Homo sapiens: one gene and its partners. The protein of the gene in region 1 purifies or fractionates together with the protein of each later gene. This does not show direct contact. Each region holds a gene or a part of one and is shown in the gene's direction. Other genes may lie near its edges.

Evidence for each region.
Region 2: the proteins of AATF (region 1) and PAWR purify together in Homo sapiens (affinity purification with western blotting; one study listed by BioGRID). This does not show direct contact.
Region 3: the proteins of AATF (region 1) and LARP1 purify together in Homo sapiens (affinity purification with mass spectrometry, with the first as the bait; one large-scale study listed by BioGRID). This does not show direct contact.
Region 4: the proteins of AATF (region 1) and MPHOSPH10 purify together in Homo sapiens (affinity purification with mass spectrometry; 2 studies listed by BioGRID, with this or other methods). This does not show direct contact.
Region 5: the proteins of AATF (region 1) and MYO1B purify together in Homo sapiens (affinity purification with mass spectrometry, with the first as the bait; one large-scale study listed by BioGRID). This does not show direct contact.
Region 6: the proteins of AATF (region 1) and RPF2 purify together in Homo sapiens (affinity purification with mass spectrometry; 2 studies listed by BioGRID, with this or other methods). This does not show direct contact.
Region 7: the proteins of AATF (region 1) and KRI1 fractionate together in Homo sapiens (co-fractionation; one large-scale study listed by BioGRID). This does not show direct contact.

Annotation. Positions count from the first base shown.
Region 1 is NC_000017.11:36,951,954-36,955,453, forward strand, and holds part of AATF (protein AATF), read left to right. Parts: intron 1-932; coding exon 933-1,343; intron 1,344-1,816; coding exon 1,817-1,954; intron 1,955-3,500. UniProt on the Homo sapiens protein: Part of the small subunit (SSU) processome, first precursor of the small eukaryotic ribosomal subunit.
Region 2 is NC_000012.12:79,680,965-79,684,464, reverse strand, and holds part of PAWR (PRKC apoptosis WT1 regulator protein), read left to right. Parts: intron 1-3,500. UniProt on the Homo sapiens protein: Pro-apoptotic protein capable of selectively inducing apoptosis in cancer cells, sensitizing the cells to diverse apoptotic stimuli and causing regression of tumors in animal models.
Region 3 is NC_000005.10:154,758,377-154,761,876, forward strand, and holds part of LARP1 (la-related protein 1), read left to right. Parts: intron 1-3,500. UniProt on the Homo sapiens protein: RNA-binding protein that regulates the translation of specific target mRNA species downstream of the mTORC1 complex, in function of growth signals and nutrient availability.
Region 4 is NC_000002.12:71,144,134-71,147,633, forward strand, and holds part of MPHOSPH10 (U3 small nucleolar ribonucleoprotein protein MPP10), read left to right. Parts: intron 1-294; coding exon 295-405; intron 406-3,500. UniProt on the Homo sapiens protein: Component of the 60-80S U3 small nucleolar ribonucleoprotein (U3 snoRNP). Required for the early cleavages during pre-18S ribosomal RNA processing. Part of the small subunit (SSU) processome, first precursor of the small eukaryotic ribosomal subunit.
Region 5 is NC_000002.12:191,381,404-191,384,903, forward strand, and holds part of MYO1B (unconventional myosin-Ib), read left to right. Parts: intron 1-58; coding exon 59-163; intron 164-1,876; coding exon 1,877-1,939; intron 1,940-3,500. UniProt on the Homo sapiens protein: Motor protein that may participate in process critical to neuronal development and function such as cell migration, neurite outgrowth and vesicular transport.
Region 6 is NC_000006.12:110,988,538-110,992,037, forward strand, and holds part of RPF2 (ribosome production factor 2 homolog), read left to right. Parts: intron 1-490; coding exon 491-528; intron 529-3,209; coding exon 3,210-3,249; intron 3,250-3,500. UniProt on the Homo sapiens protein: Involved in ribosomal large subunit assembly. May regulate the localization of the 5S RNP/5S ribonucleoprotein particle to the nucleolus.
Region 7 is NC_000019.10:10,559,511-10,563,010, reverse strand, and holds part of KRI1 (protein KRI1 homolog), read left to right. Parts: intron 1-173; coding exon 174-282; intron 283-1,165; coding exon 1,166-1,220; intron 1,221-1,294; coding exon 1,295-1,344; intron 1,345-1,745; coding exon 1,746-1,842; intron 1,843-1,930; coding exon 1,931-2,008; intron 2,009-2,562; coding exon 2,563-2,699; intron 2,700-3,074; coding exon 3,075-3,201; intron 3,202-3,302; coding exon 3,303-3,398; intron 3,399-3,481; coding exon 3,482-3,500.

The DNA of each region.
Region 1 (3,500 bases):
TACCATGGAACAGATTGGATAAACTGTAAAAACCTCTACATATCAGATGATACTCTAAGCATAAGTCAAACAAAGAGCCTTAACTAGCACTCTGTCTACTATAGGATCAAGTTCAGAGTCCTCATGAAAGACGAGACCTTTCCTGATTAGTCTCATCTCCCATCACTTCCTTGTGCATCCTGCACTCCAGTGCGTTTTCCCTTCATTATCTATGAGCTGTTGCCTTATGCTTCATAAGTAAAATTATAATGTCTCCTTCTCCACATGATACCATCCCCCACCTTTCCAGGAGAGTTAGGTGGTTCCATCTCCATACACTGTGTACTAATGACCTTGTAATATAATTATTGGCATGCATATCTACCACTCCCACCAGACCATGAACTCCTCCCAGCAAGTATTAAATTCTATTTGCCTTTCCTTAGCCCCTGGCTCATAATGAGTGCTTAATAAGTATTTAGTAAATAGGGCAGACGGATGTGATAGATTGTACATTTTTTCAGATCAGGTTTGGGAAAACTGGTAATTCTCTAACACCAGTTGAAATCTTACTGTTCTTCAAGGGCCAGAGCAAATGCTAGCTCTTCCTTAGAGATTAGCTTAAATTCACTTGCCCCACAGTTAAAATTTCTCACTCTTCTGGGTTATTGAAATTTTGTCAAAGCACTTCTGATGCTTCCTTGAGTTGTAATGTTGTGAGTCTGTCTTTCCCACTAGCTCCTTTTGTTAGGGTAGGACCCGTGTTCTATTCATCTTTGCTTCTCCCTTAGCATTTTGGAGATTGTAGATGTGTAATAAATATATTGTTGAATTGAGTGCAGTAAGAGATTTTCCCCCTGATGCCACAGTGCTTAAGTTGAAATGAAGTCTATGGCTTGGTATTTTCTCCAGGTAATACCCATTTTTCTCTTTCTTCCCTCTCTTCTTTGTAGATGAGGAAATATCTGATGAGGAAGGGTCTGGAGATGAAGATTCAGAGGGACTGGGTCTGGAGGAATATGATGAGGACGACCTGGGTGCTGCTGAGGAACAGGAGTGTGGTGATCACAGGGAGAGCAAGAAGAGCAGAAGCCACTCTGCAAAAACACCGGGCTTCAGTGTCCAGAGTATCAGTGACTTTGAGAAATTTACCAAGGGAATGGATGACCTTGGGAGCAGTGAGGAGGAGGAAGACGAAGAGAGTGGCATGGAAGAAGGGGATGACGCGGAAGACTCCCAAGGCGAGAGTGAGGAAGACAGGGCTGGAGATAGAAACAGTGAGGATGATGGTGTGGTGATGACCTTCTCTAGTGTCAAAGTTTCTGAGGAAGTGGAGAAAGGAAGAGCCGTGAAGAACCAGATAGGTTTGTACATGGTTTTGCTGATTGCCTGTTTTTCAAAGTATCTGCATTTGGTCTACTTTTCATTTGTTTGTTTTTGGCTATTCTCTATCTCCTGTGTCCTTTCAATTAGTTTGTGACATGCCCCACTTACCCAGAAGCCTAAAGCCCTATTCCTGTATGCTTAGCCAGCCATTTCTGCACTGATCTGCTTAGCTGGTTCTGCTCTAGTACTTCCTGCAACTGGGGAAGATTGAAGAGAAGAGTGTTTTCTCCTCTCCTTGGGTTTTAGCATTCCCACTCTGCTGTAGCAAATACTTGCTTCATGGATACTGAATTTATTTTCTCTAATAGAGAATATTTGTTTCCATGGCATTAAACTGCTAAAGCTGTGGTGCTTAGAGACTGGTGTGGTTTCCTGTTCTTCCCCACCCCTGCCACCTCACCCCCAGAATATTTTATTATTGAGGAATGGGATTCTCTTTTCTTCTTTTCAGCACTGTGGGACCAGCTCTTGGAAGGAAGGATCAAACTACAAAAAGCTCTGTTGACCACCAACCAGCTTCCTCAACCAGATGTTTTCCCATTGTTCAAGGACAAAGGTGGCCCAGAATTTTCCAGTGCCCTGAAAAATAGTAAGAATACTTATGTCCTGTTGGAATACTTAGAACCACTTTGTCAAATGAAGACAGCTTTGATTGAAGTGGACTGGGAGCTTGAGCCATGTTTATTGTGCTTTCTTCTCATCTGCCCTTGCTCTCCCCTCCCCATCCCCCTTGGCTTTCCAAGTTGCTTTTTTTTTTTTTTTTTTTTGAGACAGAGTCTCGCTCTGTTGCTGAGTCTCAAGTACAGTGGCGCGATCACAGGTTACTGCAGCCTCGTCCTCCTGGGCTCAAGCAATCCTCCCACCTCAGTGATCCTCCCACCTTAGCCTTCCGAGTAGCAGGGACCACAAGCGTGCACCACCCTGCCTGTAGAGAGGGATATTTTGTAGAGACAGGGTCTCACTGTGTTGTCCAGGCTGGTCTCAAACTCCTGGCCTCAAGCAATCCTCCCACCTTTGCTTCCCAAAGTGCTAGGATTACAGATGTGACCTACTGAGCCTGGCCCTGAGTTAATTCTTTAAAGCTCAGGGGACACTGGTTGAAAACCCACTGATGTAGAAAGGGAGAAAAAGAATGTCTAATTCAGCTCATTAAACTTGGTTGTATCATGTGTTTAAAAGATGCTTCCTATGTTTGAGAGGTTTTTAGAACAATGTGCTAAGATGATCTTATTTATATCTTTCTTTGAGTGACATAGAGTGAGGAAAGATGATATGCCGAGGGAGAAACACATTTTAGAGGAGAATTACTGAGCTATAAAGAATTCTAGAAGAGGAAAAGGAATTGAGAGACTATTTGGTTCCCAATGTCTTCATTTTACACATGAGAGAATTAAGACCCAGAATGACTTGCCCAAAGTTGCAGAGCTTATTTGTGTATGGCGGAGATGAGGCTCCAACTTTTCTACCTTATGATGTAGGAATCTTCCCTCTGCACCACACTGCCTCCTGTGTGCTGCTTGCCTGTGTGCCCAGTGGCACTGAAGGACTGGGGCAGAGGGAGATTTAGGGTGAGTGTGCTGTGTTTGGGATCTGTATATATCTATATCTAGATATTCAGAGTCCTCATGAAAGAGATATCTATATCCATAGATATAGATATATATGTATAGATTATGTATCTATCTCTCTATATATATATTTGGGAGGCCTTGGCCTCCCAAAGTGTTGGGATTACAGGCATGAGCCTCTGCGCTCAGCTGAGATCAATATGTCTTACTTGCATGCTGAGACTTCATGTTTTCATTTGCTCTTTAAAACTTATTTTTTTAGTATCATGGAGTTAGAGTTGGAAGGGACCTGAGGAGGATATCTAATTTGGCATCTGCCTGTAGGTAGAACCGCCTTAAGACATTCAAGATCAATGTGTAGGATTTCCCAGGTAGGGAGTTCAGTGAACGTTTCTTGTAGGTGAATACCTGATGTAATTAGGAATGGCTTCCTAGAGTCCAGTTTTTGGGTTTTGTGTCCCGCCACACTTAAAGTCTGCTTCTTCCCCTGTGGGAAGTCTGGGCAGTCCTTCCCAGGAGCCTTACGTGGCCTGTGTGGGTGAGGTGGGCCATTTATATCCCCGCCCC
Region 2 (3,500 bases), on another chromosome or scaffold:
TAATTTTTGTATTTTTAGTAGAGATGGTGTTTCGCCATGTTGGCCAGGCTGCTCTCAAACTTCCAGCCTCAAGTGATCTACCCGCCTCAGCCTCCCAAAGTGCTTGGATTACAGGTGGGAGCTACCGTACCAAGCCTATCTATGCTATTTATTATTTCTGCATTTTTTTTTTAGCACCTATGATGTGTGCCAGAAAATAATTATGCCATTTAATAGCAAGGTTGATATAATGTTTTATAAGTATAAAATTATTGGCAAATATTAGGGTTTGACATTTTCTCTGTGCTTTTTTTCCTTTTTTAAAAATTGAGATATAATTCACATACAATAAAATTTACCCTTTTAAAGTGTACAGTTCAGTGGTTTTTTAGTATTCACACGGTGTGCTCTTAAGTGCTTTTATATTTTCATCTTTATTTTTCATTATGTTCTTAGAACCTCTGGTCCCTAAATTTTAGCTTTCCTTTCAGTAAAGTGATATGGTATTCAAATTATGAGAAGCCATTAACTTAAAATAATTTAATATCAGCCTTTCCCACTTTACAGAGAAAATGAAATTATGGTAGGATCTCCTCAATTTTAAGTTTCTTAAAACTTGGGCACCTACTACCATTTGTTTGCAGTGGAGTTTAGTATAATAGGTATTTATTAGGTTTGTGCAAAAGTAATCACAGTTTTTGCCATTGAAAGTAATGGCACCAGCCTAATAGTTGGATTACTTTTGCAAAAACCTAACAATTTAACTGAGTGTAATACTTTCACCTTAATAAAACTTTTACATATCTTTCATGGAGATCTGCAAAGCTCTGTCATCTAAACATTTGGGAACATTGATTCAGAGTTAAAAAAAAAAAAAAAAGGAGTTTCCACTGCTTACCACTTTAGTTACAGTACTAGAATCAGTGTCCTAAAAGATGTTTCTGGGGGGACCATCTCTACCAGTATCACTTTTGCCATTTATTTAAAATCAGATTTCTGGAATCCACCCCAGTCTGGGTTAGGGATGTTATCTGAGAGTCTGCATTTTAACTTGAGTGATTTTGGTACACACTAAAGTTTGGGAAGAACTAACTTAAATACCCTGTACTAGTTTACTGATCCGTCAAATGAAATGAATGCTGGTTATCTAACAGGATTGTTACATGAATTAAATAAAATGATGTTTGTGAAAATGTTATAAAAATGCCCAAATCAGAAATTGTAGTTACTGTATAGGTTAATTTCCTATGAGGTTGTTAAACATTTTCATTTTTTTCTTCCAATTTAAAACTGTGCATATTTTAACAGACAGGTTGAGCTACTTGGAAATTCAAAGTACTTTAAACATTTATGTAATGTCACATACTTAGTGCAAAATGCTCTGTCTGCTTTGCCTCTTTTCCAGAATTTAGACAAGTCTAGACTACAGAAACACCTCAAATAGTTAATGCGTAATTAGAACTTTACTTTCACTCATTTTTAATTTTTACATATCTTTAAGTGAAAGCATATACTTGTGTTTATAAATGTATTTGATAATTAGCAACTCAAACTTTTAAAGCATTGTGTTTGCCATCTTATCAAACTACTATCAAGTGCAAACATTTTTCCCATTGATTACAAATCTTACATGTTAGACCTATAGGCATCCTTGACTGGCAATTGATTTTGAACATATTTGGTTAACTGCTGAGTCAACTTTCTGTTTAGATCTTAGGCAAATGTGTTATAGCCATATACCTACATGTATAGAATTGAGCCTCAGCCACCTGTTACATTCTCCTTAGGCTATGTAAAAATACACAGGGCACCATGGCTGAACGACATTGTAGGAATATTTAAATTCTAAAAGCAGCAAAATCACACACTTCAAAGGTAAAAAGAGCTCCAGCAAGTTCAAATCTTAGCATGTCAGTTGACTAGTAAAATGTTTATTCTGTGATAGTTTTTGGAGATTTTGTCCAGCAAAATTTTGTGGGTCACAGTGTATTTTTCAATGATAGTCTCATTTATTTTAAGTAGTTGAAGAAATAGGGCAGTTGTATTCTGAAAATTAATATTTTGTTAGGTTTTGCTGAAGTGAACAGATAGGAGAGAATTTATATTGTGGATTACAATTCTGTGGCAGCTGAAACTTTGTTTTCAGGCTCTTCATAATAAATTCTGTGGGGCCAGGTGCCATAGCTCACACCTCTAATGCTACCACTTTGAGAAGCTAAGGTGGGAGAATCAATTGAGCCCAGGAGGTCGAGCCTGCAGTGAGCCGTGACTGCTCAACTGCACTACAGCCTGGGTGACAAAGTGAGACCCTGGCTCAGAAAAACTCAAACAAAACAAAACTCTAGGGGGACTAAGAGAATAGGATAAATAAACATAATAATATACAGTTTGAAATACAGAACTGAAACAGATGAAATTAACTTAAAAAGACATCTTTCAGACTAAGCTTATCTATGGTCATGTAAGCAAACTACTTAATATTTTAGAATTTGCAGGTTACATAAAGTATCAATTGATTTTCTATTATTTTGGAGTTTTTTCCAGAATATTTTTAGTAGTATTTAAAAAGAATGTAAATCTCAGAACAGAGTTAACATTCAGAAGATGGTGCTTGAGGAATAGGAATAAAAAGTACGATTGTATTAGCTGAAATAATCAAAGAAGTTACTTTTAGGTTTCAAATTCTTGAAAGACTTCTCCATATCCTATAATGTAAGCAAAAGTTGATGCAAATCAAATTTATGTAATCCTAATTTTTTTCTGCTAGTAGAAGTAATGTGTTAAAAAAAAGGCAGTGTGTTCACTGTAGTTCTCTCATGGAAATAAATCCAAGGAAAGGTAGAAAAACCTGTTATCTTATACATATTAATATTTGTGTTTCTATTCTTATTTTTTTGAATCTACTTGAGAAATGGAACCACACTATTGATTTGTGTGTATACTTAACCACTCATCATGAGTATTTTTATGATGTTATTCTATAACTTCAAAAATAGGGGTGGATGTGTATGTATCTTTTGTTGTATGTTTTTTAGAGACAGGGATCTTGCTTGTTCCCCAGGCTGCAGTACTATGGTGTGATGACTCAGCCTCAAACTCCTGGGCTCAAGTGATCCTCTTGCCTCAGCCTACCAAGCAGCTGAGAGTACAGGCATGAGCCACCATGTCCAGTTGGATGCATGTGTTTTGTGCTGTTTGATATTAAAATACTTAACCATTACTTCATTGGGAAAGGACCTTACTGCTTATCTGCCTTATTATGTGGCTTTTTGATTAGCCCATAAATAGTCTTAGATAAATAGCCCTTTCCTTTCCTTTCCTCCCCTCCCCTCCCCTCCCCACCCCTCCCCTCCCCTCCCTTCTTCTCCTTTTTTCTGAGACAGGATCTCTGTCACCCAGGCTCAGTGCAGTGGCACGATCATGGCTCACTGCAGACTCAACCTCCTGAGTTCAAGAGATCCTCCCACGTGAGCCTCCTGAGTAGCTGGGACTGCAGGCTTGCACCACCACATTGGGCTAAT
Region 3 (3,500 bases), on another chromosome or scaffold:
AGAGAGTGTCTACTTGTTGGTTTAGAACCTTTGGAATAGGTTTTGACAGCCTAACTCAAGTTAATCCAGTAGCTTCTCTCTCTAAGCCTGTTGTTAGGGTTTGTGTGCATTTTGAGAGAGAATTCTATGATTGGGTTGTCAGTCTGGTAAGGCTAGATGATGACCCTTTCTCTGGAGCCTACGTGGATCTCTGAAGTGCTTTTCCAGCCCTGGTTTTATTTACAGCTTCGACAAATTTAAACGTGACACTAGTGGAGTGGCTGTGTGGTCTTGGGAATTTTTGTGTTCTGTGATGCACATGTTTTTGGGAGTCTACAGAAATGAGTACCTCATAAGCAAACTAAAAGCTTTCCAAAGCTTGCTGTAAATGCCTATTTTTAGCCTTACTTTTGGCTCAAATGTTGGTGTTTTAGTTCTTTAAGGGACACATGCAGTAACTAGTAATAAAATATGTTTCGTGATATCTCTACTTTCTTGTGGGGTTCTGTATTCTGGTTTAAGCGTCCAAGTCTTACATTTGTAGTTTTAAGTCTTGGGATTTGCATTTTGGTTTTTTAGATCTCCCTCCCTCCCCAGAGTATTTTTAAATGTTTAAAATTTTTGTCTTATCCTAGCCATACCCCTTTTAAGTATAAGATCCAAGACGTCTAAGTTAAGAGATGATACATAGCGAATATTCTGGGGTCAAACTGAGTGGGTTCAAATGCCACTGTACCACTTGTTAGCTGTGCTTCCTTGGGCAAGTTATTTAACCATTCTATGCCTCACCTTCTTAATTTGTGTAATAGGTATTTATGATTCACCTGCCTCATGGGGGTATTACCAGCATTCATTGTTATGATAAGTGTATTTAGCCCAGTGCCTGGCAGGTAGACATTGTTACTTACTCTGGGTCTTGGTGGGACTTTTCCCTGGGTCTCTGGTTTTCTCTACCTGTAATATGATGGGGTTGGTGAATGCAGATCTTTCCTTTTCTTGTGTTATATAAGTACTCCGTGAAATGTATGGGATCTGTCTCCTTAAAACTTGACTTTTGCTTATCCACAGACATGAAGGGCATGGATGGATAATTTAAAGGTTGCTGACTCTTAAGAATTAGCTATTTTTTGCTTTGGAATGTGGTGAGATGAATTTTAAAAAAATAAGTTTTAACTTTTTAGTTTGCCTTTTGTAAAGATTTTCTTTGGGGGGAGTTGCACGTGTGCTCTCAGGGATATGAGGAAAAGCCAGCCTAACTGGACTGAAAGTTTGCTGTGGCTGGTGCACATGTAGTGCCGTGAGACTTGAGAGTACAGATAGTCCCCAACTTATGATGGTTCAATTTATGATTTTTTGACTTTATGTTGTTGGGAAAGTGATACACATTTATTGGAAACTGTACTTCAGGTACCCATACAACCATGGTTTTTCACTTTCAGTACAGTATTCAATAAATTAATTACATGAGACATTAAACGCTTAAAATAGGCTTTATGTTAGATGCTATGGCCATCCGTAGGCTAATATAAGTGTTCTGAGTGCATTTAAGATAGGCTGGGCTAAGTTTGTTTGTTTGTTTGTTTGTTTGTTTGTTTGTTTTTTTGGAGACAGTCTGGCTCTGTCGCCCAGATTGGAGTGCAGTGGTGTGATCTCGGCCCACTGCAACCTCCACCTCCCGGGTTCAAGCGATTCTCCTGCCTCAGCCTTGAGAGTAGCTGGGATTACAGGCATGTGCCACCATGCCCGGCTAATTTTGTATTTTTAGTAGAACGGGGTTTCTCCATGTTGGTCAGGCTGGTCTCAAACTCCCGACCTCAGGTGATCCACCTGCCTTGGCCTCCCAAAGTTTTGGGTTGGGATTACAGGCGTGAGCCACCGCGCCCGGCCCTAGGAGCTACTTCTGATCCTGCTCATGACCAGCAATGTGGACACCGGCAAACGCTTTGCTTTCTCTGTGCCTGTTTCTTCGTCTGTAAAATCAGGGTATTAGACTAGGTCTAAATGTCTTAAAATTTTTCTAGTATCAAAAATTTTTTTCTAAAACTCCCTCCCCACAAAAGAAAGAAACCAAAGTAGAGCTTTATATATGTGTAGCTTTGTATTTGCGTTGTGATTAGGAATCCAAGCTCTCTGGAGGCTGGAGAAACTCTTCTGGCTTCAGGAGCCTAAGTCGATGGCTTGGGGGTGTATAATGGAGCAGCCAGACATTATGTGCCTTACAGTGTCTGAAAGCACACAGCACTGCCTGAAAATTTCCTCCACCAAATAAAAACTGAACCTAAATCTAACAGAACCATAGATCCAACTGCCAGTTTATAGGGAAATGGGGCTACAGGAACAGACTAATTAGCCATGAGGTAGGCAGTTATTCAGTTTCTAAATGTGAGAAATTCTACAAGACACACTATTTCCAATAAATAAATGGCATTTTTTAAAGGGAAGAACTGTTACAGATGAAGAAAGTTGAGACATCAGTCGTGCATTGTTGTGGATCTTGTTTGGATCTTGATTCTTGACCAAATGTCCAAAGACATTTTGATGACAACTGAGGAAATTGACTAAGTTAAGAAATTATCTTATTTTGTCAGGGGTGATAATGGTATTATGATTGTTTTTAACTGTGTAACTGGATATATTGTGCACCCCCACCTAAGAACTGTTAGGTTAGTCTATTACATAAGACTTAAGGCTTTTTCCTATTGTGCACTTGATCTTAGCCAAAAGGCCAAGAAGCAATATAGTGTGAATCACTTTCTCTTCTTCTAAGGAAAGGTCACAATTAGGACACCCTTTGAAGGGGAGAGTGGGAGGCAGCTTTCATCGGGAGCCTTCAGCTGGCCTGGCCCCTTTCCTTTTGCACAGGTAGTTTGAGTTTCATACTAACCCGGAAGTGAGTGCCTGCCAGGTAGGGGAAGGTTTTTAGGAAGTGGTTTTTGGCCCTTTGGGAGGTAGAGGGTAGTCACAAGCTTTCTTGAACTCTGAACCTCCTGAGGGTCGGGGTCTTTCTGCTGACCCACCCACTGTCTATAGTGGGACCTGAACTGGAGTAAGCAATCTTAATAGCTGTTACTGAGCACCCATTCTCTTTTCTGGGAGGTGGGCAGGGTGGGAGGAGGAGGAGGAGCAGCCGGCCTGAAACTACAAAACCTCTTTAAGATGGAGAGCTTGGCAGATGGGAGTTCCCCTGTTTGCAAAACCCAAGACAGCTCAAAGGGAGTAATTAGGGTGTTGGGGCCACTGGAGGTTCAGCAGGTGCCTCAGTCCAGACTCAAAAACCTCCCTGGCTGGTCCAGAGTGATCTAAGGGAGTGGCCAGGAGAGAGGATGGCCTTACCTTGCCTGGGATTCAAGAAAGGAAGTAAGTTTTGGTACCTCGCTGGTGAAAACATGGGAAACAGCACATCAATGTGAAGGGAGAAGGTGATGGGATTTAAATTAGAACATGGGCAGGGTACTTCTCTCTGCTCTCACTTTGTGACCTTAGATTGTTTGTCTAACCTGTTTTCCTTATTCACAGAATGG
Region 4 (3,500 bases), on another chromosome or scaffold:
AGCCATCTTAGGAATAGCTTAGTTTTTGACAGAAGTAAATACCAAGGTAATTAAATTTTTAAGTTCTGAGTATTAGAGGTAATGGTTACTGTAGCTCCTAAAATGCACATCACATCTCTGGTAGGTGCTGGAACCCTCATGGTACTGCTGCTTTTAATTTTGCTTTTGGAATGTTTCTTTGTAGCTGAAGCTTTAGTGATGAGAAGTTAGAAATACTCTCATTGACCTTTAGTGTTTTGTCCTGTGATATATATCAAGTCGCTTAGTTTGACATTGTTGAACTTATTTCCTAAGCAAAAAACAGCAGAAGAAGAAAATCCAGAACATGTAGAAATTCAGAAGATGATGGATTCCCTCTTCTTAAAATTGGATGCCCTCTCAAACTTCCACTTTATCCCTAAACCGGTAAGTGTGTTAACAGTTCAGTGTGTAGCTAGAGCAGGGTGACCTTCATAGCTTTGATCCTTTGTGAGACTAGCTCTTTATTTTGTTTCAGGATACAAACTTGTAGTTTGCTGTAAATTCCAGGCAGGGTCTCCATGAGGAAAGCTCACTTCTGGTCCCATGACAGTTCTGGCTCTACCCAGATCTTCAGTGAGCCCCTGCCAGCTGGGGCTGGGCATGGTCAGGCATCATGCTAGTACTGCCTCTTACTGTTTTAACTTACCTCACACTTTAAAAGATCCTCAGCCGTAGCCACAGGGACTCCTCCTTTCCCTACCCTCTCAGTCTTCTGTTGCATTTTCATTGTATAATGGGTTTGGAGATGTATGGATATCTATACCAGCATTTATGGAGTATCTGCTATGTGTCATATTAGGTTCTTTACATACACTAACACTTAATGCACACAACACTGAGGCAGGTACTATAGTTTCCATTTCACAGGGGAGAAAACCAAGGTTTAGGAGGTGGGAGAGTGAGAACTAACTCTGGGCCCAGCTGTCTCCGCATGATGTTCCTTCACCAGGCCCAGCCCTCTCAAATGCTCCTCCCCTGTCTGTCTGTCACCCAGACTTGGCTCTACCTGTCTATTCCTTGGAGCCTCATCTCCTGCTTACCAGCTTCTGTGAACCCATAAAACATGCTTGTACCATCCTTTGGTACTTGTTCACCTGTTGCCCTTTGGTGCCTGTGTTGTTGTCTGAAATGGAATGTCATGAATTAAAGACTAGTCTAGAAGTCAGAACCTGAGCTGAGTTCTGCTCCTAACTAGCTTTATGATGCAGGCAATCGCTTTACGTTTCATTTGTACCGAAGAGCTAATCTCCAAGATCCTTTATTATTAGTTGATGGCTAGGTGATTCCCATGCAAATATTTTATCTTCTCAGACAGTAAGCTTTTTTAACCTGGTTGTTTTTTTTTGTTTGTTTGGTTTTTTTTTTGGTATATATGTATGCTTTTAATCCAGTTGTAATTACATGCAAGTAAGTTCTTGATGGCAGGAACCATCTTTAGATTCCCAAAGTCCCTGCTATGGGCTGTGTAAAATAAACAGGTGAAGAGATGAGTGGAATTTCTCAACTCCTCTTGTCCAGCAGGTCTTACTGAGATGAAGGACGTGGGCCTTTCTGGGCCTTACCTGTGTGATCTGGCTCTTCCCACCCCTTTGGTCTCCCTTGGCTTGCTACCCCCACCCCCACTGATCTTCTGATTCCTTGAGCAGGCCAAGTCCCTTGCGCTTTCTCACTGTGCTCTTCCCCTGGCCCAGTAGGCTGCACTTCCTTTTTGGCATGGCTGGCTCCTTATTGCCCAGGCTAGACGCCTTTCCCTCCTTGCAGATGTTCCTTGGCTCCTTACCTAGGGTAGACTCCCCTTCCCACCTTGCTGCATGTCTCACCACTTGGCTCCTTTTCCTCATAGCTGCATTGCACATTTGCAGTCATTCGCTAGTTGTTCATTGCTCTCTACTTGTCTTCAGGCAGCACGAAATGCATCTACTGTTCCACTCTGTTCCTCGCACTAGCTAGGATCTAACACACGGAAGCCTTTAGACATTCCTTGGAATACTGGGAAGTGAAGGAGAAGTGAATGTATATGTGTCTATGTGCCCAAATGAAAAGCCTTTCTTTTTTCCCTTAAGAAATGTAGAATTGCTAGTGTAGGTTCCCCTTGATATTACTTTTTTCATGTTCAGGTTGGTATTTCACACCATCTCTGTAGACTCCATTTACTAATCACAGCCATTATTTTTTGTGGCTTTTTTTTTTTTTTTTTTTGAGACAGAATCTCACTGTGTTGCCCAGGCTGGAGTGCAGTGGCATGATCTTGGCTCACTGCAACCTCTGCCTCCCAAGTTTAAGCGATTCTCCTGCCTCGGCCTCCCGAGTAGCTGGGACTACAGGCATGCACCACCACGGCTGGCTAATTTTTTTGTATTTTTAGTAGAGACGGGGTTTCACCATGTTAGCCAGGCTGGTCTCAAACTCCTGACCTCAAATGATCTGCCCACCTTGGCCTCCCAAAGTGCTGGGATTACAGGCGTGAGTTACCGTGCCCAGCATTTTGTGGCTTTTTGGACTGTCTTCTTTTTCTCCATATTTCTCTTTAAACACTAGAATGGAACACAGTGTTTTTAATAACAGTTGAACAGTGGTCCAGTGGAAGAAATGATTTCTTTCACACTCTCATTTTTCTCTCACTTAGAATCCAGGATCCTATTGTGTTTATGGCTTGTTTTTGTTCTTTGTGAAGTTTCCTTGAGCAAATAACTCCATGGACAGGATGGTGATAAGGAAGAAAGAATGCTAATGTAACTGCAATATATAGTCACCATTTTAGTTGCAGGATCAGTATGAAACCTGTTTTAATTACTGGATTTCTTGGGTAGTTCTTTCAAAAAAAGACAAAAATCTGAAGCAGATGGTCCTTCAATTAACATTGCATTCTTTCCCCCTTTTTGTAATTGATAGCTTTGATTTATTTTGATACTGTTTGAGTTTTTCAGTATTATTTCATATTTGTTTATAGAGATGTTTTCAGTAGTTGAAAGATGAGGAAATTTATCAGTAGTCTATTTTTGACTCTTGTTCCCGTAAGCATCTTTCCTTGCATCTTTTTCCATATACTTCTTAGAGCTAGCTTTTTTTTCTGTAAGCAAAGTCAAGATAATATTAATAGAGATCAGTAAATCTTACCAAACAGCATTAATGGTTGTTTGAGAATGTCCACATGCATGGTAGATAGGAATAGTTGAGGAAGAGATGGAAGAACTGATGTTTGAAGATGGCAGAAATGTTATGTAAAAATGTAGAAAACGCCGGGTGTGGTGGCTCATGCCTGTAATCCCAGCACTTTGGGAGGCCGAGGCGGGCAGATCACGAGGTCAGGAGATCCAGATCATCCTGGCTAACACGGTGAAACCCCATCTCTACTAAAAATACAAAAAATTAGCCAGGTGTGATGGCAGGCGCCTGTAGTCCCAGCTACTCGGGAGGCTGAGGCAGGAGAATGGCATGAACCCTTAAGAGGGAGCTTGCAGTGAGCCGAGATAGCGCCA
Region 5 (3,500 bases), on another chromosome or scaffold:
TGTTTTGAGAGAGCTAGTGGCATGGTTTATAAAGCTGTTTTTCATTTTCTCCATACAGGACAACAGCTTTGAGCAGTTCATTATTAATTATTGTAACGAAAAGCTGCAACAAATCTTCATTGAACTTACTCTTAAAGAAGAGCAGGAGGAGTATATACGGGAGGTAATGTTGAAATGCTATTTTTAAAAGTGTTGGTCCTTTTTTACTCGTAATATAAATTCTAATTCAGAAGATAGCCTAAACAAGAAGCCATATTCAAAAGGCTACATACTGTATGATTCCATCTGTCATTCTAGAAGAGGCAAAGCTATAGAGACTGATTACCTATAAGAAGCTATAGAGTCAGGGATTGCCAGGAGATAGGAGTTGTGAGAGGGTTGTGGCTGCAAAGAGAATTTTGGGGACTGATAATGGTGGTGGTTGCTTGACATTATACATTTGCCAAAACTTAGAGAACTGTATACCAAAAAAGTCAGCATCACTGTAAGTAGATTTGAAAATATTTTGAGACTTTGTTCAATATCAAAAAGTATTGAGTATTCAAATTTATAGTAAAAATAGGTAACAGTTACTGAGTCCTTACTACATAGCAGGTATTATATTAAGTGCTATGTATAGATTATCTCATTTAATATAATCTTAAAATAACCAGAAGTAGTGTTTGCAGAGTCTTTTCATCATTAATTTAAAAATATATATTTGCTTTTCACCCTTTTATTTTTTAAAATAGCCAGTCTTTTTTCAAGTGTAAAATTAGTTATTTCAAAAAATAAAAAGGAATTGTTATGTTTATATTTTTATTTCCTTTTTTGTTTATTTGCCTTAATATTTTAGTAATGATATTACCTGTTTTCCTTTATTTTCTTAGTATCATTTTAAGCCATTAAGGACACTGAATTCTCTTTTATCTTTCTTTCCATATAGATTTTTCTAATGTGATTGTTATCCCCAGTGGCTTAGTAAAACAACCCATTTACTCAAAAGCTAAATCATAAATATTTCATCTTTATTTTAGAGTACTCATTATGCTTCAGAAATGTTTTATACTTGTCTGGCACCTTTTAGTAACATAAATATTCTAAAAGCACGATTCATTCTTTTCCTGTCTTCTCATCATGAAGAGAATGCCCAAACTTTGATGGGTAACTTAAAACAGTTTATACAGATTGTTTAAAACACTTCTAAGAATATATAGGAAGATTGCTAGCTTGCTGTAATGAATAGAAGACAAATAAATGTTTACATTTATGGACAGAATGTTAAGTAGACACAGAAAGATTACATTTGGCTTTATGGATTTGGCTTTGTAGCCAGTGTTAGAACCAGTGGATAGATTTTCATGTCTTTCCTTATGTTGAAAATACTTTGTGGTAGCGCTGGCCTGTTTTTTTTAACACTTGAAAGAGTTAACTTCCCTACAACACAAGATTGACTCTAAAATTAATTTTTTTCCTTATGATTACAGATTCAGAACAGAAGAATCTAGGCTTTAAATTCTTGGGATCAAGTTCTAACTTATTTCCTTATAAACATTGTAAACATACACAACGTAATATTGACCCAAGGGCCTGTTGAGTAAATATTTGGCCCAGGGCCAGTGAAGTGCATGGGAAATTGCTGCAGATGGGAGAGTGGAATGGAAGGCAGTCTCAGAACAGGTCAAGGGTGTTTGCTTCAATCAGATTATGTCAGTGGTAGGCAGCTGCATTGAGAAAGTTTTGGGAACTGCCTGTGACATTTGCAGTACCCATTCTATAAAGAAAATAAATTCAGAGAGGAAGGGAAATATGATAAGATGGTCAAAGTCTGTTTTATGGATGGTAGTGTCGTGGCTTCATCTTGTGTCATTGGATTTTGTTCTGTTTTGTCTTTTAGGATATAGAATGGACTCACATTGACTACTTCAATAATGCTATCATTTGTGACCTAATAGAAAATGTGAGTACTTAGGTACAGTTTTCTAAAGAATGTTTTAGTCCTATAATTCACCCTTATAAATGTTCTCAGTGCCTCAATGTTAAGCATTAGTATTTTCACTGTTTTTTATATATATATATATATATATATATACACACACACATATATATGTGTATATATATATATATACACGTACACACACACACACACACACACACACACACACATATATATATATGTTAAGGAACTGCAGAGTTCTAGAGATTTTATTGTAGCCCTAAGAGATCATACACAGTTCTTGAACACATACATAGACAGCTGGATGTTTTGATACTTAGCCAGGATCCCCAGTGGCCATATCACAACACCCTTTTATGACCTTCAGACACCAGGCCTTAAAGGTACCAGCCTTTCTTGTATGGTTGGAGCCCAGGTCTATTCCATGACTCCTGGGCATGTGAGTACTGATCAGAGTAGGCTCTGAGCAGCCATCCAGTTTTTTGCCAAATCAAAATATCCATTTCATTCCCAAAACTCTAATGACCTCTTAACATACTATTCACCGGGTATTATATTAAGTTTAAGTGACATAAAGGGACAACCTCTGGAGCTGAATTAAGTGGGACCCCAGAAGTGGCTTAAGTGCAGCTGTAGCATTGATTCAGATCATACATGCAGAGGGCATTGCATGTGTGACTGCAGGTGGCCAGGGACCTGGAATTTTTCGGATGACCCAAGTATGTGCATATGCAAAAAGGCTTAAAGTGTGAAAAATTATTGGATAATTTCGAGTAAGCTTTCTGAGTCCAAGATTTTTGTTTTTAGATCATATTCCGTAGTTTATTGTAAATGAATTAAATGTAGGAAGACTGATTTTGTGTGTGGAAAACAGGAAACTAATTTATGCTTAGGATTACTAATACCTGACTTTGAATAAGTAATTTGAAACAGTGTATAAGCCTTATTATCCTGCAGTCTTTTTAGCAAGACCAGTTTAGTGAGATGAGTGCTGTGTTTCAGGAATACAGTCACATGCTCTGAATGAATATTAAATCATTTTCTACTCATCTTTTACAAAGCTTTTTGGGAAATATGTAATTAGCCAGTATTTTTTTTCCTCAGTATTCAAGATATTCCTAAAAGTTGTTTCTCTGATTAAATTAAACAATATTCTAAGGCATCACTATTTTTCAATAAGAAATAAACTGTGTTTCAAAAAATCTGAACAATATTGAATGGGAACACTAATATTCCACATAAGCAATTCAGATCTCTGATTTTGGCTCTGAAAAGTGAATTTCCTGAAAATTTTCCTGGTACATTTTGTGAAGGAGGTAATTTGCTATGGGAATCTTAATTTTCAGAATTTCTGATTAGTATGTTTTCTTTGATAAATATAACCTTGCATTTAATTATTCTCTTTTAAGAAGAGGAGAAAAAGAACAGTGGTAATACACTTAATTTAACTAGATTATCTCAGCCAAAAATCCCCTTGCTATATGATTGAAGAAGCTCATGTTCACATAGGAACCTGGGTATATAAAGGAAATGTTTCCTTCCAGCATCATTAAACAATAATGTT
Region 6 (3,500 bases), on another chromosome or scaffold:
TGATCCTCCCGCCTTAGCCTCCCAAGTAGCTGGGACTGCAGGCATGCACCACTATGCCTGGCTAATTTTTGCAGTTTTTTGTAGAGACAGGGTTTTGCCATGTTGCCCAGGCTGGTCTCGAACTCCTGGGCTTGAGTGATCTGCCTTGTCCTCCCAAAGTGTTGGGATTACAGGCGTGAGCCACTGCACCTGGAATTGTTTCCCTAGAGAGAGACTGGACTAAGTCGAGTTTAAAGAAATGAAGGAAATTGTTTAAGTTGGATAGACTATTGACAGGGCATAGAAACTTTTAAATAGGAAAGTCTAGTCCAAGAATATTAAGCTTACATTTCAAGTTACTGTAAGTGATGAAAAGGGAGCCAGGCAGAAGCCCTCAGAATAAGATTGAGGCCCCAGAGCAATCTTGGAGAGTGACTGTTATGATGCTTTATTTTTATTTCTGCTTTTCAGAATGTGTTTTGTTTTGAAAGCTATAAATTTTGTTTTACAGTATGCACTGAAAAAACCATACGGTGTACTATATAAAAAGTAAGTCATGATTTCTTTTACTGTATTTTAAATGATTTTGTTTCATTATAAAAGTAACCACTTTATGGAAGATTTGGAAAACAAAAACTTTTTAAAAAGATATTAAAATTCCTTACAGTTATTAATATTTTAATTTCTTTCTTTTGGTCTGTTTTTTTCATTTGTATTGAATGTCCTTGCATAGTTGTAACCATAGCATATATATTTTATTTTGAAATACAGATTTACAGAAAAGTGCAAAAATAATGCAGAATTCCCATATACCCTTCACCTGGCTTCCCCTAATGTTACATCTTGCATAACCGTAATGCAATGATCAAAACTAATAAATTAACACCGATTCACTCATGTTAATCAAATGACAGACATATTTGATTAGCACCAGTTTTTCTTTTTTCCTTCTTTTGAGACGGAGTCCTGTTGTCGCCCGGCTGGAGTGCAGTGGCATGATCTCTGCTCACTACAACCTCTAACTCTGGGTTCAAGCAATTCTTCTGCCTTGGCCTCCCATGTAGCTAGGATTATAGGCACGTGCCACCACGCCTGGCTAATTTTTGTGTGGTTTTTTTTTTTTTTTTTGAGACGGAGTCTAGCTTTGTTGCCAGGCTGGAGTGCAGTGGCATGATCTCGCCTCGCTGCAACCTCTGACTCCCTGGTTCAAGTGATTCTCCTGCCTCAGCCTCCTGAGTTGGGATTACAGGCATGCACCTCCATGCCCAGCTCATTTTTGTATTTTTAATAGAGACAGGGTTTCACCATGTTGGCCAGGCTGGTCTTAAACTTCTGACTTTAGGTGATCTGCGCGCCTTGGCCTCCCGAAGTGATGGGATTACAGGCGTGAGCCACCCCGCCCGGCCCAGTTTCTTTTTTCTTTCTTTTCTTTTTTTTTTAAGACGGAGTTTCACTCTTGTTGCCCAGGCTGGAGTGCAGTGGCATGATCTAAGGTCACTGCAACACCTGCCTCCTGGGTTCAAGCAATTCTCTTGCCTCAACCTCCCGAGTAACTGGGATTACGGGCATGCGCCACCACGCCCGGCTAATTTTGTATTTTTAGTAGAGACGGGATTTCTCCATGTTGGTCAGGCTGGTCTCGAACTCCCGACCTCAGGTGACCTGCCCACCTCGGCCTCCCAAAGTGCTGGGATTACAGGCGTGAGCCACCGTGCCCGGCCCTAGTTTTCCTTTTAATACTCTTTTTCTCTTCAGGATCCCATGTTGCATTTAGTTTTCATGCCTCCTTAGTCTTCTCCAATTTGTGACAGTTCCTTAGTCTTTCATTGTCTTTGATGACCTTGACATTTTTGACAAGTACTTGTCAGTTATTTTGTAAATTATCCCTCAATTTGGGTTTAAATTTTCTCATGAATTGATTGAGGTTATGCATGTTTGTCAAGAACACTACAAAAATGTTGTGCTTTCCTCATATATTCTTCTGGATTATAATCCAGTGTTCTTAATTTTGTTGCTTAAATTGTTCTGTTTGGCAATTGGGAACCCCCCCCCCCCCCACCTTTTCTTTTGTTTGTTTTTTTAGTATGAGACGGAGTCTCACTCTTTCACCCAGCCTGGAGTGCAGTGGTGCGACCTCAGCTCACCACAACCTCTGGCTCCTGGGTTCAAGCGATTCTCCTGCCTCAGCCTCCTGAGTAGCTGGGATTACAGGTGCCCAGCTAATTTTTGTATTTTTAGTAGAGACAGGGTTTCACCATGTTGGCCAGGCTGGTCTCAGACTCCTGACCTCAGGTGATCCACCAGCTTCAGCCTCTCAAAGTGCTGGGATTACAGGCGTGAGCCACTGCTCCCAGCTGGGAACTCTTTTACGTTGGTTCCTATGACCTTTCAACATGCCTCCTGTTTTTGAGCACTTCCTTACTTTCTAACATCACAAAATTATCTGGGTTCATCTTGTCTTTTTCCTTACCACAGCCCTGGAATAAGCTACAGTCATCCCTCAGTATCTGTGGGCGATGGGTTCCAGAAACCTCCCCTTATTAAAATCTGGGTATGCTCGTCTCTTACATAAAATGGCCTAGTATTTGCATATAACCCACACACTTCCTCCTGTATCCTTTTTTTAAAAAATGCTTCCCATAAAAGTAAGTTGCATATACTTTAAATCATCTCTCGATTACTTATAATATCTAATATAATGTAAATGCTATGTAAATAGTTATAATGCTGTATTTTCTGGTTTATCCTGCTTTTTATTGTTCCTTTTTCTTTTTATTTCTTAACTTTTTTTTTAGAGACGGGGTCTCACTGTTACCCAGGCTGGAGTGCAGTGGCACGATCATATTTCACTGTTGTAAGCCACTGTGCTCGGCGCCCCCTGCTTTTTTTTTTTTTTTTAACACACTTTCTTTGTCTATTGAATACTGTCAATCCGTGGTTGGTCAAATCAATCCATGGATGCAGAAGGATGCAGAATCCATATGTACAGAGGACTACTTATTTTCCACGAGCCTATAAACTCCATGAAAGCAAGCATCTTGTTTAATGTAGTAGTATAGTATCACTAGCTCCTAGAATGGTAGCCTGGCATATAACAGGCACTGAATAAATATTTGAATGAATGAATATCCTTTCAATTGTTTTATCATCTGAATATAAAATTACCTTAATATATTAATTGTATATACTTATTTAGATTATTAAAATTGTCACTTTTTTGATATTCTTAGGAAAAATATTACAAGACCTTTTGAGGATCAGACATCACTGGTAAGTATAATAATCTTTATGATTTAAGAAAGCATATAAGTAGTAATTATTCAGACTAATTCATTTGTACTCCAAATTTGTGATTTTTTTAAACATTAGAAGTCATCCTGTGTGAGGGAATTTTGTGTAAAATGGAGAGGAAATACTTTAAAAAATATCTATAGAGCTTTCATTTCACTATGGCTGGGAAATGTGTTTTTCATTGCCTGCAAATATATTGATAAAATTTTTAAAACTTGGCCGGGCGCGGT
Region 7 (3,500 bases), on another chromosome or scaffold:
GAATGACCCCAACCCCACCAGATGGTGACAAGCACAATACTCTTGGACAGCTGGGAATTGGTGGATTTGGGATTTGAATCCTCTGTCTAACCCTGGCCCTGCCCTGTGGGATTCTCTGCCACGGCAAAGAAGGGGGTTGTGGGTGATGGCAGGTGTCTTTGGTGGGTTAACAGCATCGTCATCAGACAGTGAGGAGGACCCAGAAGCCTTGGAGAAGCAGAAGAAAGTGCGGCCCATGTACCTGAAGGACTACGAGAGGAAGGTTATCTTGGAGAAGGCAGGGTATGGAGAAGGCCTACATCCCCACCCCCTGGTTCCCAGCCCTGTCAGGTCTATGGGGGTCTTAGGGGCAGGAGAGGGAAAAAAGCTGGCAGCCTGGGCCGGGCATGGTGGCTCATGCCCATAATCCCAGCACTTTGGTAGGCTGAGGCAATAGGATCGCTTGAGGACAGAAGTTTGAGACCAGGCTGGGCAACATACCCCGCCTCTACAAAAAAATTAAAAATTAGCTGGGCATGATGATGTGTACCTGTAGTCCCAGCTACTCAGGAGGCTGAGGCAGGAGGATTGAGCCAGGAGATGGAGGCTGCAGTGAGCTATGATCAGGCCACTGCACTCCAGCCTGGGCAACAGAATAAGACCCTGTCTCAAAAAGAAAAAAGGCCGGGCATGGTGGCTCATGCCTGTAATACCAGCACCTTGGGAGGCTGAGGCGGGCAGATCACCTGAGGTCAAGAGTTTGAGACCACCCTGGCCAACATGGTGAAACCCCGTCTCTACTAAAAATACAAAAATTAGCCAGATGTGGTGGTGGGCGCCTGTAGTCCCAGCTACGTGGGGAGGCTGAGGCAGGAGAATCGCTTGAATCTGGGAGGTGGAGGTTGCAGTTTTCCGAGATCATGCCACTGCCCTCCAGCCTGAGGGATAGAGCGAGACCCTGGCTCCAAAAAAGAAATGCTGTCACCCATGATTGGAAAAGAAAAAAAAAAAAAAAACGCTGGAAACTCACCAGAATCGCAGATAGCCCTGAGAGCAGGAGTCTCAGTGATTCCATAGCCCTCCGATGACCCCCGCCAGCTGTTGCTTGGAATAGCTGCTCCGCATGGGCATGGGGACAGGCGGGCCCTGGAAGATATATTCTGAAGACCCCACTTTTCCTTTACAGCAAATATGTTGATGAGGAGAACTCAGACGGGGAGACTTCCAATCACAGACTCCAGGTGGGTGGGGTGAAGGCTGGGTCGGGGGGCTGAGGGGCCTGGGGCTGGCCTGAGACCTATGGCCCTCTCTGCAGGAGACATCGTCGCAAAGTTATGTGGAGGAACAGAAACAGCTCAAGGAAAGGTGAGGCTGGGTGGGCGGGAATGGCCCAATGGAGGAAAGTTGAGGCTCGGGGGTTGGATAGGCACGGGTTCAAATTGAGCTCTGTCACTTTCTATGTGCTTCAGTTTCCTCATCAGTTAAACGGGGTTAATAACATCACAGCACTGCTCTGAGCTTGTTGAGAGGAGAGCTCAGGGCTTAGTAAATGGGGTTAATCTTGGGGCAGCCAGCCAGGTGAGGTGGCTCATGCCTGTAATCTCAGGGCTTTGGTGGGCAGAGGAGGGAGGATCACTTGAGCCCAGGAGTTCAAGATCAGCCTGGGCAACATAGTGAGACCCCAGCTCTACAAAATAAAATAAATACTGGGGCAGCAGACAGGGGCCAGCCTGCCTGTCCTGAGGCTTGTTTTCTCTCGTGGGCAGCTTCCGGGCATTTGTGGAGGACAGTGAGGACGAGGACGGCGCTGGGGAGGGCGGCTCCAGTTTGCTGCAGAAACGTGCCAAAACCAGGCAGGAGAAGGTGGGTACTGGGGCCTGACTGGACTGCTGGGGGACAGGGTGGCGGGTGGCTGGGCATCTGCGGATGCTCAGTGCTAGCTTTCCCCCAGGCCCAGGAGGAGGCCGACTACATCGAGTGGCTGAAGGGACAGAAAGAGATTCGGAACCCAGATTCCCTGAAGGAACTGGTGAGTTCTCACGCATGGTCGCTGATGGAGTAGACCGCGTGTTCCGCGTCCATCCAACCTATTTACAGAAAGTAACCCTCTGAAGATGGGATATGTACATCTCTGGGCCTCAGCTCCTACATCTCTTTAAATGGGGATAGGCTGGGTGCCGTGGTTCACACCTGTAATCCCAGTGCTTTGGGTGGTCAAGGCAGGAGGATTGCTTGAGGCCAGGAGTTTGAGACTGGCCTGGGCAACATAGCAAAATGGCTCTACAAAAAAATGAAAAAATTAGCCAGGCATGGTGGCATGCACCTGTAGTCTCAAATACTTGGGAGGCTAAGGTGGGAGGATCTTGTGAGCCCGGGAGGTTGGGTCTGCAGTGAGCTATGATCACACGACTGTACTGTCACCTGGATGGCAGAGTAAGACCCTGTCTCGAAATAAAAATAAGAAACCAAAATGGGGCTAATGTCACCTACTCCAGAGGCTGGCTGTGAGGTCCATGTGGTGAGCATGCCTGCCCTCCTTCCCTGTCCTCCATTGACCAGAGTCCTGTCTCCTGTCACCCCCAGACGCATCTCAAGGAATACTGGAACGACCCTGAGTTGGATGAAGGGGAGCGGTTCCTGCGGGATTACATCCTCAACAAACGCTATGAGGAGGAGGAAGAGGAGGAGGAAGATGAAGAGGAAATGGAGGAAGAGGAGGGGTGAGCCACTGCATCTCCCCAGGACCTAGATTTTGGGTGCGCTTCATGAAGTATTCCCAGGCGGCACTGGCCAGGAGGCAGAGGGCACCATGTGTGTATTTTTTTCACAGATGGTGGCAGAGTTAGTCTTCTGTAAGGCAGAGCCACAGAGTATAGGCTCTGGAGCCAGGTGGCACTGCCTCAAATCCTGGTTCGGCTTCAAGACTTTCATGCCTCAGTTTCCCCATCTGTAAAATGAGGACAATAGCAGCGTGCACCTTGTAGGGTTCTTGTGAGGATTAAATGAGTTCATACGCTTCGTACCCAGGCGTGCAGGAAAGGGGGGCTCGACCTCACTTGGCTGGCCCCCTGGCATCACCACATCTTGCCCCTCAGGGTCCACGGTCCCCCAGTCCAGCTGGCTGTGGACGACTCCTCAGACGAAGGGGAGCTGTTTCTGAAGAAACAGGAGGACTTTGAACAGAAGTACAATTTCCGTTTCGAGGAGCCGGACTCAGCATCGGTGTGTGGCTGGGGCTGGGGAGGACTCAGCCCCCAGGGTTCAGGCCCAGGGAACCCCACATCATCTCTGCGGCCCTTGTGGGCTTTTCTGATTGCGCCTAGGTCAAGACCTACCCACGCAGCATCGCGTCCTCCGTGCGCCGTAAGGATGAGCGCAGAAAGGAGAAGAGGGAAGAGACTCGGGAGCGAAAGAAGAGGGTGAGTGTGGGGGGTGAGCTGGGGAGGACCCCCCAGCCCTGGAGGAAAGCCCATGCCCTCCCCCTCTCTGCCTGGGCCTGCAGGAGAAAGCAAAGAAGCAGG